2 linked regions of the Homo sapiens genome follow. Changing the gene in region 1 together with any one later gene gives a genetic interaction. Each region holds a gene or a part of one and is shown on either strand. Other genes may lie near its edges.

Region 1 (3,813 bases):
TGCGTTCCCGACCCTCAGAGCGCCCTTGTGCATGTTAGCCGAGGAGTCAGGGCCAAGCCTGTGGACAGCAAACCAGTCTGCACCGCAGACCTATGAAAGTCCTACTGTGGAGACACAGCCTGAAAAATGCCAATGCCAAGTCCTTCTGGAGTGAGAGGACGCCAAAATAAAAGGACTTAGTACAGAGGTCATTTAAAATAATACACTGTAATCAAGTAGCTATGTGATAGGACATTTAAAAATCTCAGTTGAGAAGAAAGATGGAACTAATTTTCTCTCTAGTACAAAACTGGTGACTAATGTTCAGCTGGAAATGTCCAAACAGATTTAGGGACATTAATAACCAAAAATTATGTTTGTGCATTTATTGAATAGGAATTAAATGACTTGCCTTGAGGACAAAGCGACTGTGGCAGAGGAGAAGTCAGGGCTCACATCATCTCAGGCCTTTGATTCCGGTCCCCTGGGCCCTTGCCTTGTGTGAGACCGCTGGCCCTTTGGTGATCATGGGGCCAGGCCTCTGCGTACCACCTCCACCGATCCCCGTGCAGCTGCCTTGGCGGCATCATGCTCCCCACCGTAAAGACTTGGGCTCACACTGGGCCAGGGGAAGTCCCTTGCCTTGTCCAGAGCCTCAGTCTCATGGGCCCCCATCTGATCCCAGTCATTCTGCTCCTAAGTCCTTTCCCTGAGCCCCAGGCTGTGTCACCTCCCTTGAAAATAAAGCCCCGTGGCTTCCACTTGCTGCTGGTATTCAGACAGAGTAAAATCATGGCAGGGAAGGCCTCCGCCACTTGGCCTCCTCCACTGCTACCTGGACAGGCTCCTACTCAGTTCTATTACCTTCATCCATCCATCTCTCCATGTCACATACATGCACAGAGTGAGCTCTGAGCTCCAGGCATTGTGGGACTGGCTGTCCATCCCTGGGAGCTGACGACAGAGTCATGTACCTGCCCAGGGCGCTCACACCAAATGCTATTGTTCCCATGCTAGCCCTTCCATTGGATCAAATGTAGTGTAGCTGGCACCCAGACCTGGGATCCAAACAAGTTTTCCTATCAATTCTTTACTCTCCACCCAACAAACACTAACATCAAAGCACCTGCCCAAAACACGTTTGGTTTTTAGCACATAACTAAGAATCTTTTTTTTTTCTTCAAACATTTCCCTACTCCCTGCTGGACTTTATATTTGTTTTTGGGAGAAAGATTTCTCTGCCCCTTTTGTTACTTGTTACAATATACATAATGGACCGGATTAACTGAACATTCTTGATTGCATTTGAAAGATATTTTTAAAAACAGATGCCCTTTTAAAATATTTTATCTGGCCCCTATTTCATTGGGAATCAATATAAAAGGATATGTTTATTTTTCTGAAATATATTGTTAAGAATTTGTATTTCTTAAGCTCAATCAAAGCCTCTGAAGTATTCATACAGTTGAAAGAAAGATGTGGGGCCCACATTTCTGGCTGTGAGCAGGGTGTTGTTAACAGTTCAAAGGCTGGGCACCACATCAATACTCCCCACATGGAACACCTGGACAGGGCAGACCATGATGGGTATGACTGGGAAAACAGCAGCCAGAGCCCAGGGAAGAAAAGGAGGCTGCCTTCATAATCCCCAAACCAGGGGTCTCCTAGCCCACATCCAGCAGCGAACGACCCCGCAACTGCTCATCTGTGTCTGCTCAAGGATTGGTAACATTCGACCAACTCTTATTGCCTCAGGTATGGCTGATCTAAAATCCCAGCCATCTAAAATATCATCCAGCACTCTGCTTTTGGTGAAAAAAAAAAATCCTAGTGACAAAATAATGAGAAGTTAATCCTCCAAAATAAACTCTTGATATGTCTAGGGCCAGTACCTAAAATTGGCAGCACGCTACATGTACCCACGGGCCTCTCCTCACTCTCTCTAGATTTGGTGTCCAGAGCAGAGAGACACGTGGCCCAAATGCTGAGCCAAGAAACAGGAGGCCTCCCTGCCTGGGATCCAGCCTTGTACGGAGTCAGCAGCCCTTCCTGCCCAGTGGTGGGGAAGGGGTGAAATCGGGCGGAAGTGCAGCAGCTGTGAGGGGCCCAGAGATGGCCCAGGACAGCCCCTTTCTTTGGATAAGCAAAGTGAAGTTCTGAGAGTTTCTAGGGTAGGCCACAGCTTCCTAGCTTTATGTTCTGGTCTAGAAGCTGCTCTCTTACCCTGATTCCAGACACCTGATTCTAGGCCACACTGCTTCTCAGGGGTGGGTTTCGTTTGCTTTTGCAGTGCCTCACACCCAGCCTGGTTTAATTCAGGCCACGAGCCTGGTTAATGTGCACAGCAAGTTGCATTTCTGCCTCATCGATCACTGGAGTCAATGGTGCATATTGAAGAATGAATGCCTTCATGGTAAGTGATAACATTATGGGATTAAAATACTTAATCACGCAAAATTTACATAATAATCATTTAGATTGCCATGCAAAAATTATCTGGCATGCCACACCACACTGATTTGACCTACTGATCTGGATGATGCACAAAAGGTATCTATCTATTTGTATGGTTTTTGGCTTGGTTCATGTATTCATTCAAACTTCATTGATTCTTTTTTTTTCCATGACAGGGTCTTTCTCTGTCAACCAGGCTGGAGTGCAGTTGTGTGAACATGGCTCACTGCAGCCCTGACCTCCCAGGCTCAGATGTTTCTCTCACCTCAGCCTCCTGAGTAGCTGGGACTACAGGTGTGCACCACCATGCCCATCTAATTTTTTTGTGTTTTTGGTACAGAGTTCCATCATGTTGCCTATGCCGGTCTGGAATTCCTGGCCTCAAGTGATCTGCGTGCTTCAGCCTCCCAAAGTGCTGGGATTACAGGTGTGAACCATTGCACCCGGCCTCAAACTTCACTGATTCTTACATGTGCAATGCACAGCATTAGATGTTGTAGGGGAAAGATAACCACAGTTTACTGCATACCAGCCAAGCGGCCTGTCAATTATATGTATCCTATGTCCCCCTCACAGCAGCAGCCCTGGGAAGTAGCGATGATTACTCCCATTCTAGAGAACACTGAAGCCTGCATTTTGAGTCATTTAGCCAAGGTCACACCAGAGTCAGAACTTGACTGACTGAACCCAAAGTACATGCTCTCAGAGACACACCCTCCACCCTTAAAGCACTGGCTGCCTAGTGGAGGAGATAAACTACTTGAGCAAGTGAACTGGAAATCAAAGTCAAGTCCAGTAAGTGCTTTAGGACAGGCAGAAATAACGTTCTATGGAACCAAGAGTAAGAGAGATTCCTCTCAGGTAGGGGAGCCAGGAAGGCTTTGTGGAGACTGAGACTTTTGAGGTGGGCCTTGAGGTATGGGTAGGAGTTTCTAAGATGGAAATAAAGGGGAAGGAGGCTGAGAGCAGGGAGCTGAGTCTTGGGATCTGGAAAGCTTTGGGAGCTTTATGGAAGACAAAGCCATTGGGTCAGTAGGAAGAAAGCCAAAAGAAAAACTAGAGATGTTCTTAGAACTGTAGTTTTCTTCCCAAGTGATATTCAAATATTAAGAAGGCCAGTCTTTACCCTAATGGATACATTCATTCCTGCTTTGGCAACAGAACTTCTGTGAGGGTGACTCAAATGTTATAAATGAAAAAGACTTGTCTAGCAAGGGAATACGGGGCAGCTTCGATCCTGTTCCCTCCCTGCTCCCAAGCCTGCCTCCCTGGGAGGTCACTTGGGGTGTCTCTGGTCCAAGCCAGCAGTCATTTTAGCAGGTGAGTCCAGCATCTCCAGAAGGGCTGGCCACATGAGCCCTGGATGGACCATGCCCATCC
Region 2 (3,813 bases), on another chromosome or scaffold:
TTTTTTTAAGACAGATTCTTGCTTTGTCACCCAGGCTGGTGTGCAGTGGTGTGATCTCGGCTCACTACAACCTCCGCCTCCCTGGTTCAAGCAATTCTCTTGCCTCAGCTTCCTGAGTAACTGGGATTACAGGTGCACGCCACCATGCCTGACTAATTTTTGTATTTTTAGTAGAGATGGGGTTTCGCCATGTTGACTAGGCTGGTTTCGAATTCCTGAGCTCAGGTGATCCACCCACCTTGGCTTCCTAAAGTGCTGAGATAACAGGCATGAGCCACCACGTCCGGAGGCCCCTACCTTTGCGTGATACCTGCTCCTTCCCATTATTTTGAAGAAACTGCTGAATCCACAGGGGAAGTGAAACTATGAGGGGAGATAAAGTGTTGGGGCAGAGTTTTGAGAGTGATAACCACAAGCTAAGTTTAGAGGACTGAGAGTTTGAGAGTCCTCCCTGAGGACCCACATGTCCCCCTTTATATCCTATTACAGGGCATGGTGGCTTTGCCAATGGTCCTTGTTTTGCTGCTGGTCCTGAGCAGAGGTGAGAGTGAATTGGACGCCAAGATCCCATCCACAGGGGATGCCACAGAATGGCGGAATCCTCACCTGTCCATGCTGGGGTCCTGCCAGCCAGCCCCCTCCTGCCAGAAGTGCATCCTCTCACACCCCAGCTGTGCATGGTGCAAGCAACTGGTAAAGATGGGCCTATGGTCTTTGAACCATGTGTATGTGTATGTGTATGTGTATATGTATGTGCAGCCTGGATATATGTGTGTGATTGTGTGGGCACATGTATGATTTTCTGGGAACACTCCACAGTCTCATGTGTGACTGAGTTTGTGCACATAGGACTCCTGTGTGTGGATATACGTGTGTGCATACACATGCATGCAAGTTTCTTGTGCACTTAGGATTATGTCTGTATCCATTTGCTTGTGTATATATGGAGAGAATTTGTGACCATGAATTGGGAGAAAGTATGTGCTTGTGGGAATTCATGCTTGTGTATAGGTAGAGGGAGCTGTTGTGTATGTAAACATGGGAGAAAGGTACTACCCAGTGCGGGCTGCCATAACAAAATACCATAAGCTGGGTGGTTTAAGCAACAGGAATTCATTTCTCCTAATGTTGGAAGCTGGGAAGTCCAAGATCAAAGTGCTGGCTGATTTGGTTCCTCAGTTAGGGCCCTCTTCCTTGCTTGCAGACTGGCTACCTTCTCGCTGTGTCCTCACATAGTGGGGATGGGGTTGGGGGATGGGGGTGGGAACTGCCTCTCTTCTTGTAAGCGCACTAATTCCATCATGAGGGTTCCACCCTTAGGCCCTCATCTAAGCCTAGGTACCTCCCAAAGGCTCCATCTCCAAATACCATCACATGGAGGGTTAGGGCTTCAACAGAGGATGGGGTGGGGGTGGGGAGGGGTAGGGGTGCAGAGTTCAGTCCATAGCAGCAAGTGTGTGGTTAGATTTCTAAGTCTGTGTTTTGGGTGGAGGCATTCTGTTCCTGGGTGTGTAGTAGCCTATGACTGGACAGGTAGAAAGGGAAGGGGTGGAAGCATATGGGCTTGAGGGGGACTGGAAAGGCTTGAGCTACCTAAGTGGCCAAGAAGGATGCTAGGGAGCAGGTGTCTCCCTGGCTCTTCAAACAAAGCTGTTGTTTGTTTATGCTTTAAAGAGACAGAACTCATGGAGCAGCAGAGCAGGAGGGGTGCCCAAGCTGGGATGGGGGCAGGTCTGCCTCTCTCAGTGTAAGATGGAGGGTTAGATCAGTGTGGGAGCCCAGATAAGAGATGGGGGCAAATTCACATGGAAGCAGAGCTACAGATGCTTAGAGGACCCAGGAGAAAGGCACACAGGGACCCAGGAGAAAGGCACACAGTGAATCTGACTGGACAAGAAGGGTAGATACTGAGTCTGCACAAGGCAGAGAGGCAGAGGTGCCAGGCTGGAGCTGGGGAGCTGGCGCTCTTGAGATGGTCAGGTCTGTGTCTGGCTTCTCCAGTCTCCTGACACCTAGGGCCAGCTGAGAAGCCGCTCTAACCATTTCCTTCCCCTGTGGCTTCCCAACCAGTCCCAGGGATACCAGACATATTGGTGGGGAGGACGCCTCCTCTTCTGTTCTTATCCTTTCCTTTCCAAGGAGCTGTGGGTCTTAGTCTGACCACCTTCCCATTTTGGTGTGAGCTTGCTGGGGAGGTTGGCCTAGGAGGCAAGGCCCCTGTTTTTTTGTGGTAGTGAAGTCTCTAAGATCTCAACAGGAAGTCTGTGACTCTATTGGGGAGGAGAGGGGTAGGTGGCTGGGGCAAGGGGGAGTTGAGATAGGGGAGGGGTGGGGGACTGCTATAGGAAGTGGGGCTCTGACAAGGAAGAAAGGACCAGAGTTCCACCGGTGGCGGTTCATGCCTGTAATCCCAGTACTTTGGGAGGCTGGGGCAGGAGGATTTCTTGGGGCCAGGAGTTCGAAACAAGACTGGGCAAAAAAGCAAGACCCTGTCTTTACAGTAGGAAAAAAAAAAAAGGCGTGGTGGTTCACGTCTGTAATCCCAGCACTTTGGGAGGCTGAGGTGGGCGCACTTGAGGTCAAAAGTTTGAGACCAGCCTGACCTATATGGGGAAATCCCGTCTCTACTAAAAATACAAAAAACCTGGGCGTGGTGGCACATGCCTGTAGTCCCAGCTACCGGGAGGCTGAGGTACGAGAATCACTTGAACCCGGGAGGTGGAGGTTGCAGTGAGCGGAGATAGCACCGCAGCACTCCAGCCTGGGTGACAGAGTGAGACTCCGTCTCAAAAACAAAACAAAACAACAAAAAAGACCGGAGTTCAAGGGTAGCTGTGGCGAGGAAGAGGGGAGGGAATCAGGGACTCAAGGAGTGGACTGGAGGTGGGGGCATTAGAGGTGGCCGGGTTTGCAGGGTGTTTTTGGGAGCGGGGCCCAGGGCCTATGCAGGACCGGGTCCCGACGCGCCTTTTCTTGCTGAGCAGAACTTCACCGCGTCGGGAGAGGCGGAGGCGCGGCGCTGCGCCCGACGAGAGGAGCTGCTGGCTCGAGGCTGCCCGCTGGAGGAGCTGGAGGAGCCCCGCGGCCAGCAGGAGGTGCTGCAGGACCAGCCGCTCAGCCAGGGCGCCCGCGGAGAGGGTGCCACCCAGCTGGCGCCGCAGCGGGTCCGGGTCACGCTGCGGCCTGGTGAGTTAGGGGAGGCGGGGCCAGGCCAGAGGTCTAGGCTGGCGTTCCAATGCGCTCTGCTGACCCGCCCGCCGCCCACCCCCTAGGGGAGCCCCAGCAGCTCCAGGTCCGCTTCCTTCGTGCTGAGGGATACCCGGTGGACCTGTACTACCTTATGGACCTGAGCTACTCCATGAAGGACGACCTGGAACGCGTGCGCCAGCTCGGGCACGCTCTGCTGGTCCGGCTGCAGGAAGTCACCCATTCTGTGCGCATTGGTGAGCCGAGCGCTGCCTCCCGCCCTGTTAGCCCTTGCCTATTCAACCACTGCCCTAGCCTCTGCCAACATCCTGGACTCACAAGGGCCCCAACTTGCCCTCCCAGTTGTTGACAGGCCTAGCCAGGCCACAGGTTCGTTCCTGCATCTCTCCCTAGACACCCATCTTCTAGGTCAGAGCTGGAGAGGACTCAAGAGACTATCCGTTTTACAGGCCTGAGACCCAGCGTCTGGAGAGACTGTGCTCAGGCACTCTCTGGGCCTGGACAGCTGCCCTGGGCCTACCAACCTGGAACCTGCCCTGATGCAAGTCTCCCTGGACAAGACCTAGATGCCACTGTCCCTGGCTCCACATTCTGTGCCAACTCTCC

What was found.
Region 2: changes in PTPRE (region 1) and ITGB7 together harm fitness more than expected from each alone (negative genetic interaction), as found in Homo sapiens cells (one large-scale study listed by BioGRID).

Annotation. Positions count from the first base shown.
Region 1 is NC_000010.11:127,909,871-127,913,683, reverse strand, and holds part of PTPRE (receptor-type tyrosine-protein phosphatase epsilon isoform 1 precursor), read right to left. Parts: intron 1-3,813. UniProt on the Homo sapiens protein: Isoform 1 plays a critical role in signaling transduction pathways and phosphoprotein network topology in red blood cells. May play a role in osteoclast formation and function.
Region 2 is NC_000012.12:53,197,123-53,200,935, reverse strand, and holds part of ITGB7 (integrin beta-7 isoform a precursor), read left to right. Parts: intron 1-482; exon of another isoform or gene 483-489; 5' UTR 490-492; coding exon 493-693; intron 694-2,984; coding exon 2,985-3,186; intron 3,187-3,272; coding exon 3,273-3,443; intron 3,444-3,813. UniProt on the Homo sapiens protein: Integrin ITGA4/ITGB7 (alpha-4/beta-7) (Peyer patches-specific homing receptor LPAM-1) is an adhesion molecule that mediates lymphocyte migration and homing to gut-associated lymphoid tissue (GALT).